3 linked regions of the Homo sapiens genome follow. The protein of the gene in region 1 interacts with the protein of each later gene in a pairwise test. Each region holds a gene or a part of one and is shown in the gene's direction. Other genes may lie near its edges.

What was found.
Region 2: the proteins of CD69 (region 1) and CLDN1 interact in binary tests that used the Homo sapiens proteins (3 or more experiments, as listed by UniProt).
Region 3: the proteins of CD69 (region 1) and MAL interact in binary tests that used the Homo sapiens proteins (3 or more experiments, as listed by UniProt).

What each region holds. Positions count from the first base shown.
Region 1 is NC_000012.12:9,754,892-9,758,008, reverse strand, and holds part of CD69 (early activation antigen CD69), read left to right. Parts: intron 1-1,589; coding exon 1,590-1,712; intron 1,713-2,747; coding exon 2,748-2,947; intron 2,948-3,117. UniProt on the Homo sapiens protein: Transmembrane protein expressed mainly on T-cells resident in mucosa that plays an essential role in immune cell homeostasis.
Region 2 is NC_000003.12:190,308,846-190,312,504, reverse strand, and holds part of CLDN1 (claudin-1), read left to right. Parts: intron 1-2,251; coding exon 2,252-2,336; intron 2,337-3,659.
Region 3 is NC_000002.12:95,046,152-95,049,810, forward strand, and holds part of MAL (myelin and lymphocyte protein), read left to right. Parts: intron 1-363; exon of another isoform or gene 364-627; intron 628-1,124; exon of another isoform or gene 1,125-1,807; coding exon 1,808-1,975; intron 1,976-3,429; coding exon 3,430-3,555; intron 3,556-3,659. UniProt on the Homo sapiens protein: May be involved in vesicular trafficking from the Golgi apparatus to the cell membrane. Plays a role in the maintenance of the myelin sheath, and in axon-glia and glia-glia interactions.

The sequences.
Region 1 (3,117 bases):
AATATTTGGTCTATAATACTGTTACATTTCCTCTATTATTTTAACATCTTTTGAAAAATTCAAATTTTTACTGTTCATTCACATATCATTTTAAATTGAGGTTTAGTTCACATACGATGAATGCACAGCTCGTAGGTATACAGTTTAACGACTTATGACAGTGGTATAACCACAAGACCAGCAACATTTGAATCTTTCCATCACCCTAGACAGTTTGCCCTGTGTCCCATTCCAGTTAAATTACCTTTCCTACACACACAAAGGCAACTACTGTTCTGATTTTTGACACCAGAGCTTAGACCAACTATTATTTAAAGTCATGTAAATGCAAATATGTAGTATACAATCTTCTGTGGCTGGATTTTTTTTCACTCAACATTTTTTTTGGAGATTCCTTCATTTTGTTGCATGTATCAGTTGTCTTATTTTGAATTGCTGAGCGGAATTCCCTTGTATGGATATACCATAATTTGTTCACTTATTTTCCTGTTGGTGGATATTTGGATTATTTCTGGAATTTGGCTCTTAAGAATAAAGCTGCTAGGAGCATTCTTGCACAAGGCATTTTGAGAACATATTTTCATTTTTCTTGAGGATATACATAGGAGTAGGTTTGTTGGGCCATAGAAAAGGCATATATTTAATTTTATAAGAAACAGTTTCCAAAGTGTTTTTCCAATTTACTCTCCCACCAATAATATCTGAAAATTCCAGTTGCTCCACATCTGCAGCAACTTCACCAAAAAATACTGTCACGTTTAAAATTTTGTTCAGTCATTTTAATGTCAGATATTTATATAGCAATTCAATATTTTACTTTATGATATTATCCATATTTATCCCATTCACATCATTTCTCTCAAACAGTAACTACAAGGAGATTAAGGAATTATGCTAGAATTTTTTATTTATTTATTTATTTATTTTTTTAGACAAGGTCTCACTCTGTCACTCAGGTTAGAGTGCAGTGGTGCAATCTCCGCTCACAGCAACCTCTGCCTCCCAGGCTAAAGCGATCCTCCCACTTCAGACTCCCAAGTAGCTGGGAACACAAGTGCGTGCCACCATGACCAGCTAATTTTTTGTATTTTTGGTGGAGACAGGGTTTCACCATGTTGCTCATGATGGTCTTGAACTCCTGAGCTCAGGTGATCAATCCACTCACCTCGGCCTCCCAAAATGCTGAGATTACAGGTGTGAGCCACCATGCCCTAGAATTTTTTTATGTGTCTTCTGGGGCATGTGCATATTTAATAAACGTTCTTATCATCATTAAAACAAACTGATTATATACTTAGAATTTTCATAGTTACTAAGTGTATAAATCATATGTGTCAGGTAAATATTTTGGGGAGACACTTTATAATCTCATCATTATGCTTGAATTGTTTCATTTCAAGCCAACAATAAACTATTCAAATTCACTCAAAATTGGGGGTAAATTAACTTAGAAATTTCTATAAAGAGACGGGGAAATTTCATATAATGAGATAGGAAATATTAAGTTTAAATGCCTCAAAAGAATGTTGCATATTCCTATAGTACTTCTATAGTCTGCCTGAACTCATCATCAACTTTCTCCCTTCCAGATGATGCCACCAGTCCCCATTTCTCAACACGTCATGAAGGGTCCTTCCAAGTTCCTGTCCTGTGTGCTGTAATGAATGTGGTCTTCATCACCATTTTAATCATAGCTCTCATTGCCTTATCAGGTGGGTCTACACTTCATCAATTCTTTCAAAGCCTCCTAGCTGTAAGCATTCATGCCCAGCTGAAATCAATATTAGTTTAGTCTAGTTAATCAGAAACTAGCTAATTCAGAATCATCCCATGTACCATATATGGCCAATTTCCTAATCAATACTAAACATAATTCCACAATCCTTGAATAATTAATGTAATACTTTTATAAGTATTAAAAGTATCTATGATTTATATATTACTGTAGAATAAAATTGCATTTGAAAAGATGTTTACATCTAGAATGAAGGGAGCTGATTTGAATTCTGAATAAATACCTATTTAGCTAGAAAAAAATGTGAACTTCACATTCATTGATTATGGAAAAAAATCGTATCTAAAGCCATAGATTAATCAGGAAGTGGCCAGTCTTTTGTGTTTTATCTCAAAGGACACAGAATGGTAGTTCTGAATAATTAAGATTATATTTAAAAGTTCCCAGAGAGTCAGTAGTGATTTGGTATTCAATACCTCCAGCTGTACCAAGATATATTTGTATCTTTTACAAATGGGAATGTTTACCATTGTTTTGAGATATTCTGAGTCATATGTCTTTCTGTATTTTGAATTGGTTCCCTAAAAGTTAGTTACTCTCTCCATCTTTCCAGCCTAGTGCTATAAATACTGCATCTTCAAATTCTTCCGCCTCTGCATTCAGATTCAAAACCTTATTTGAAATGTATAATGCACTTTATCCTTTCTAGTCCAAAGAAATATCTAGTCCAAATTTTCAGAATTGTTCTATATTTCTGTCATTTTCTGACATTATGACCAAAAGTACATCCCCTCATCCTCATATCTCCATCCAATGATGATTAGGCACAATGGAAGATCAGATATGGTCCTGAGAACTTTCTTTCTTCATACCCTTTTCAGAATTCTACTTTTTAGCTTTTATCCTTTACTTTATCACCACCTAGCACAACATAGCATCCTAAGGCTAGTTTTGCATGCTGTGGGTATTTGGTTTCTTTTGTTACTAAAACAAAGCATTTTTCTGTTCACAGTGGGCCAATACAATTGTCCAGGCCAATACACATTCTCAATGCCATCAGACAGCCATGTTTCTTCATGCTCTGAGGACTGGGTTGGCTACCAGAGGAAATGCTACTTTATTTCTACTGTGAAGAGGAGCTGGACTTCAGCCCAAAATGCTTGTTCTGAACATGGTGCTACTCTTGCTGTCATTGATTCTGAAAAGGACATGGTAAGAATAAAAAAAAGATAAAATACTACTATTTTAATTCATATGGCTAATCAGTGCTTTCCTTCCGTTTCTAAGTGGAGAAAACAAACAAACAAACAAACATTGTACCTATTTCAGATGTAGGAAAATGTCATCCCAGAGAACCATATGATCAGCCTGAGGTCAAAATG
Region 2 (3,659 bases), on another chromosome or scaffold:
CACAAGAATATGTGAACCCTTCAGGTCTGTGAGGGATGGAAGGATTGGGATTATTGGAGAAAAATAAGGATAGCATTCCAGCTGGGCAGATCTAATTCGAGAATAAACAGGATGTGCCTGTAGATCAATGAAAAGAAAGGCCAACTGGAGTAGAGGTGGCCTGTTGGAATGGTCAGTTTAAAGCAGTTAGGAAAAAAAAAATACAGAAATACCTTTAAATTTTTTTGATAAAATAATATTATATTTTCCATTTAAAATAAATACGTGTTTTTTAGGCCAGGTGTGGTGGTTCACGCCTGTAATCCCAGCACTTTTGGAGGCTGAGGAGGGCGGATCACCTGAGGTCGTGAGTTCAAGACCAGCCTGGCCAACATGGTGAAACCCCATCTCTACTGAAAACACAAAAATTAGCTGGGTGTGGTGGTGCACGCCTGTAATCCCATATACTCCAGAGGCTGAGGCATGAGAATCACCTCAACTCGGGAGCCGAGATCGCACCACTGCACTCCAGCCTAAGCAACAGAAGACTGTCTAAAAAAAAAAGAAAAAAGAAAAGAAAAGAAATATCTGTTTTTTAATTCAAGTGTTGATTGATAAGTTACATTATGTGTCATTTGAGAAAATCAAAGTCAGAAAACATGGACAGCATTATTTCAAAGCTTTATAATAATGCCTATTTAAAAAATTATAGTGTATGTATACTTACGTGTGTATATGTACATACATATGCAATCTCTCTGTGTGTATATATATATCTTTATATCTATACACTGTGTTATATATGTTGATAATCTCCATATAAATTATACAGCTATAATAATAGACTACTATATGTTCTCTATATTAGGTATTAGATGCATATATTATATATGTAGTATATTATAGTATATTATTTTAAAAAAATAACAGATATAATTAATGATACAAATCTACTAATAGAAAAAAACTAGAATAGACTTTATTTTCTTATTTTCTTTTTGACAGAAGACTTGTAGGGGCTTTTGCTTCAGTATAATATGTCAGTTTAACCAGTAATTGAGGAAGAGTATCTGTGGCTTTGCTAAAGATGTGGTTAGTTTAAAATGACCAGTCTCTCAGTTTACCCAAATACAAATTGACTCCTCTCTGAAAAGGCATGGATAGTGTCTTATTCCCAATAATTTACTCTTATATCAAAGGCTGCGAATAGTAATCTTTGTGGCCATCGTGGCATGAAGTGTATGAAGTGCTTGGAAGACGATGAGGATGAAATGCATTGCATTCTTCCTTCGCTTGCCTTCTTGTAACTCCCACATGTGACTGCATCACTCCTATTCCAGTTTCAGGGACTTCTCTTAGGAGTAAGCATCACAAGTTCAAGACCATTCGCATGGTCTATTTGAGAAGCCAAAAGCAATAGTGTTTTCTGTCATGTCTAGAGGCAATTACATTGGACCATGTTTTTGGCTGGGGAGAGACAGTAGCATAGAAACATCTAATCTATCTATATTGATGAATACTTAGAATTACTACAAAAAAGTTATTTAACTTTTTTGATAAAAAAATGAAGTATTTTATACATCTTATAAATGATTAAGTGAATGATTTTGACTAAATGATTTCTCTGCTATCATTGAATATAAAATGCCATGGGAAATTGAGATTGGGTTGCATAAATTGATCTGATGTGGCACCCTCAACAAATCTCAGGCCAACCTATACCTATATCAGGTATTCCCTTGGCCAATGGGGCAGTAGTAATGCAGGTATTCTGGTCCATTCTGAGACATGTCCTGATCTCACTCTATCTAGCTGCTTGCATTCCTTTTGACTCTGCAGAAATGTAAATTTTGAGTTTGATCAAGAACATAGAAGAGTTTTCATCTTCCCCTTTTGCAAGTAATTCTACCTGTACTAATAATGACAATAGTTTTATCAAATGTAGTTTAGTATCCTAATGTATAACAGCATATTTAAAAGAGATTTTGTACAACATACACCTGCCTAATTGTTTCCAAAAAAGAATTATTTGTGCCAAGATATCATAAAAAAGTATAAATTTTGTCTAATGCCAACCTAGTATTTTTTTATATTTTAATAGATACTTGGAATAAATCATATCTGGACTTCTAATCTCCCTAATACCAAAATAAAAATGTCAACACTATTGATGAGATTTAATTCTTGCAAAATATGTTTTGGTTTAACAGGTTGTGTATTTAGGCTCAGTGTTCCATGGTGATTAACAGTCTTTTGTTTTGAATTTCTATAGGTCTGGCTATTTTAGTTGCCACAGCATGGTATGGCAATAGAATCGTTCAAGAATTCTATGACCCTATGACCCCAGTCAATGCCAGGTAACGCTATTCAGGCGTAAAATAGTTTGTTTTCTGAGAAAATGCCCTTTTTATATTCTACAAAGTCCTGCTAGTGCCATCATTTCCCAGATTTGCTTTCAAGAATTTTATGTCAAACCTACAAACAATTTAAATGATCTCTGACTTATGTCAAAATGAGTTTGATAATTGCTTTAACACCCTGTATTGATGACAAAATACCTTCCAAAGTAGAAAAGTTTCAAGCTCTGTGCTTTTCAACTGTATAACTGGGCTTTCTTTTGTTTGTTTTTTCAAATATTAATAAAGATGTTAATATATTTGAAATTTCCTTTTTGAAGTGTATTCTGATGTTTACAACACCTACCTAAGATTATTTGTAACTAATGCACAGTTTATGATTGATTGAGAAAAATTATACTACTATAGGGGTTAATGAATAATACTTCATTCCCAACAGTTCATTTTTACACGTAAAGCTATTATGTATGTTTTTAGTATGTTCAGATACCACCTTGAAATTTTTTGTTCTTTCACAACTGTAAAATTGGCTTTACAAAGGTCATCTTTCTTAATACTGCAGGTTGTGCAAGTTGAGCTGATTCTTAGCTCTCGTGTAACAACATTCTTTAATCAGAGACGAGGCTCTTCATCTCACTGTCTTCACATCTTTAATGCCTAATAACTACATTCAGTCAGGATGTTAAAATATAATTATTGTTTGTTGAGTGCTTAGATGAATGGATGAAAAACCTCAGTGTTTGGAGAGATAAGATGTGTTTCTTTTTATATAATCACCCACATATGGGAGAACACATACTGCAATGGTTGTGTTGGAGCCCATCCCATAAGATTTACAGTGTAAGAATAGAAACTGCTAGAGGTCAGTAGGCTAAAATTTCGCCAAGGTAATAACACCAGTAATGCACAGGAAAGCACTTTATAAATTGCCAGCCATTTTGCAATTGTTATTTACATTATTGCATGTGATCCTAAAAGCAGTCTATTGAGGCAGGTGGGATTATCCTGCTTTGAGAGTAGGAGAAACTGAGGCTGAGAGGTGAAGTTGCTATCCCAGAATTGCAGCAGTTGAGAGTCTGCATCAGGATTTAGACTTGGCCTTATAACTTATAGAACCAACCCTTCTCTACTCTTCCGTATTGTCCATAATCACTCACAGATACCCCACCCTAAGTGTCTGCTTTAATACATCTGCCTGGATCAGCTTAATCCAGAATGGTTCATGGGCTGCTTAGAACTTTTCTTTACAAAACCATAAGATTTGGATTTCAGATTGTATAGGTGCCTGGGACCAATGGATCATCTGTTCAAAGCTCTGATTAT
Region 3 (3,659 bases), on another chromosome or scaffold:
GAAGACAGCGGTATCTCTCACCCAGCAGGTGGGCAGCAGGTGCAGGGAGGTGGGGGGGTCAAGGTGCTATGTGAATTCAAACCACAGGGGACATAGGCCTGGGAGGGCAGCCCCATCCTCAGCCCCCCAGACACTTCTGTAGTACCTTGGAGACTTTTGGCTGCAAAGGAATCTCCACATAGGCCTGGAGTGCTTCGAGCCCAGTCCTCATCCAAGTGGGGAACATGTGGATGAGGCTGAGCTGATTCTTACTGGGTGGGGGTGGCGCTGGGGGAGATGAGGAGAAGGGAAAGAGAAGTGCAGAAAGTCCCCGCTGGGGTTTGTACACGCCTGTCCACAGTGAGGAACGGAGTTTGTACGTACCCATCCGCGGTGGGGAGCGGGTTTGTATGTGTCCATCCACGGCGAGGAGCGGGGCTGGGCTACTGAGGGGTGCTACTGGCCCCCATGTCTGCTCCTCTTTGACTGTATGGGGCTCACTGACCCTGGCGACATCAACTGGGGTGTATTCTGGATAACCACGGGACTGTACTTTCCTCATGCCCATCCTCAGCCATCCAAAGAGACAAGGCTGTCCTTGGTTACTCCATTCCAACTCCAAATCTGATCATCAGAACACTTCCTGGACTTGGGAATATAAACAGTTGAATCCAGAAAAAGAAATAATGAGCAAGAGAAAGAAAGAGAGAGAAAGAGAAAGGGAGAGAGAGAGAGAAAGAGAAAGGGAGAGAGAGAGAGAAAAGAAAGAGAGAGAGAGAAAGAGAGAGAAAGAAAGAGAGAAAGAGAAAGAAAGAAAGAGAAAAAAGAAAGAAAGAAAGAAGAAAGAAAGAAAGAAAAAGAAGGAAGGAAGGAGAGGGAGGGAGGGAAGAAGAAATGAAGGAAAGAGAGAGAGAGAAAGAAAGGAAGGGCAGGGCAGGGGACTACTGACAGTGTGGTTAATTTGTTTTGCCAAATAAAGACCAAAAAGATCTGCTGGTCACTACCATTGCATAAAGGAAAGGACATTTTAATATCAAAGCAAGTAGGAGGGCTAGAATATCAGAAGAAATAGCAGCTCTTCTCATGACAATACCAAATGGCATAAATCCTTTCTCAGAATGATGAATTACTTAACTTCCACCTACCTCAGTTTCCTCATCTGGCAAACAGGTCAGCATTGCTCAGAGGGTTACTGTGAGAATCACTGAGTTATTATTTGTAAAGTGCTTAGGATAGTGCCTGGAATGTAGGTCTGATATAAGTGTTTGTTAAATAAAAAAATTAAACCCATATTTAAAAAGTTACTCAGGCCAGGTGCAGTGGCTCACGCCTGTAATCCCAACCCTTTGGGAGGCTGAGGAGGGCAGATCACCTGAGGTCAGGAGTTCAAGACCAGCCTGGCCAACATGGTGAAACCCCGTCTCTACCAAAAATAGAAAAATTAGCTGGGCATGGTGGCATGCACCTGTAATCCCAGCTACTCAGGAAGCTGAGGCATGAGAATCACTTGAACCCAGGAGGCAGAGGTTGCAGTGAGCCACACGCCACTGTACTCACGCCTGGGTGACAGAGCAAGACTCTGTCTCAAGAAAAAAAAGTTTTAAAAAGTTAATCAGGGCAAGCGTGCCGGGGATTGGGATTGAGATCCAGCACAGGGCCCTGGGGGGACTAAAGATGCATTTTTGCAGAGGAAAATGCCTGCCCTGTTCTCTTTGCCTGCTTCCTGTGTTTTTGCACTCCAGTCACCCCATGTGACCGCTGGTCGGGGGCCCTTCCTGGGCTGGGGCTCTCCTCTAGGCCAAAACTCACCCCTCCTCCTCCCCCGCAGATCTTCGGGGGCCTGGTGTGGATCCTGGTGGCCTCCTCCCTGGTGCCCTGGCCCCTGGTCCAGGGCTGGGTGATGTTCGTGTCTGTGTTCTGCTTCGTGGCCACCACCACCTTGATCATCCTGTACATAATTGGAGCCCACGGTGGAGAGACTTCCTGGGTCACCTTGGTGAGTCCAGCCCAGGGTGGCTGCTGGTTGTAGGGGGGCGCAGGAAGTACTGGTCCCTGGCCCAGTAGGATGGGCTTTTCCAGTGCCAGGTGAGACTTCTCCGTAGATGTCACCCCACCATGTTCCAAGGCTGAGCCTGCCCAGGGCTCCTGGCAGCAGAATCAGGAGAGGCAGGGGCAGAGGCAAGGTCGCCGCTGCCAACCCTCACTGGACCTGTTCTGTGTTCTCCTGCATGACTGCCTTTCCATGGATAACCAGCTGCCCAGCCCCCACACCACCTGTACCCGCCAGGTGCCTGCCTGCCCCTCCCATCACCTGCAAGGGCTGTTTTCACCTCAAGGCAGCAGGGCCCCAGAGGCCGACCAAGGTGTTGGGCTCCAGAAATTGGCCCTGGCTCTGAGGGTCAGGCCATGCTTACTGTCCAGCTCCTCAGCCACTGCCTTCCAAGCAGGGCTGCCAGAGAGCACTGGGAAACAGAAGCGGCCTTTGGTCATTATTCTGTATAAATTCTGCTTTGAGACCCATGAAAAGGTAACTTTTACATGTAGGACACTTGCCTGTTACCTGCTGTAGGGGTGGTGGGGCCATTTGGCCAAGGCTGTCACTCTCAAAAGCTCTGCTACTTAGACTTTTGAAATCACTTCCAAATCACAACTACACAAAACCCTGTTTTAGTACCTTTTTGCTTTCATTTATTACTTTATTTTGAGTTGGGGGTCTCATTCTGTCACCCAGGCTGGAGTGCAGTGGCGCAATCTCATCTCACTGCAGCCTCAACCTCCCAGGCTCAAGTGATCGTCCTGCCACAGCCTCCTGAGTAGCTGGGACTACAGGCATGTGCCACCACACCCAGCTAAGATGTATTGTTTTGTGTAGAAATGGGGATCTAACTATGTTTCCCAGGCTGGTCTCAAGTCCTGGCCTCAAGAGATCCTCCTGCACCAATCTCCCAAAGCTCTAGGATTACAGTCATGAGCCACCACGCCCAGCCCTTTTTTGCTTTTAAATATACCAGGGGCCAAAAATAAGCAATGAAACAAAACAAAACAAAACAAAACAAAACGAAAGAAACAGCATGGTCCTCCCTCACCCTGCACTGGTCAGCGAGGCCACACCCAACCTGGACTGTGGCCATGCACGACACTTCTCAGATCCAGGACCAGCTTTTCCCTGGGACACCCCAAGCTGCTGGCCCTTCCTCCACCTCTCCCTTGACCCTTCCTCAGGGGAGACCAGTGTCCCATCCCCAGCAAAGTGCTCACTCTGGCCCCACAGCAGTGAAGTGAGACTCAGCACAGCAGGGCAGGCATGGGACCTCCGTGACAAGGTTGGGAGGGGTGGGATTCAAAGGAAGTGGGGGGAGAGGCAAGGGGCGGGGGTGGAGGGGACCTCAGCTCTGCATCTGGGCCCCGTCTCTCTCTCCCCATCCCTCTGACACCCCGTCTGCCCCATAGGACGCAGCCTACCACTGCACCGCTGCCCTCTTTTACCTCAGCGCCTCAGTCCTGGAGGCCCTGGCCACCATCACGATGCAAGACGGCTTCACCTACAGGCACTACCATGAAAACATTGCTGCCGTGGTGAGTCCGGGCACCTGGGGCTGTGTCCACAGCGGGCGGCTCCGTGGCTGGCAGGGTGTGTGTGGAGGCTGCCTAGGCCCTTGGTCTGTTTTCAGTTCACTAAC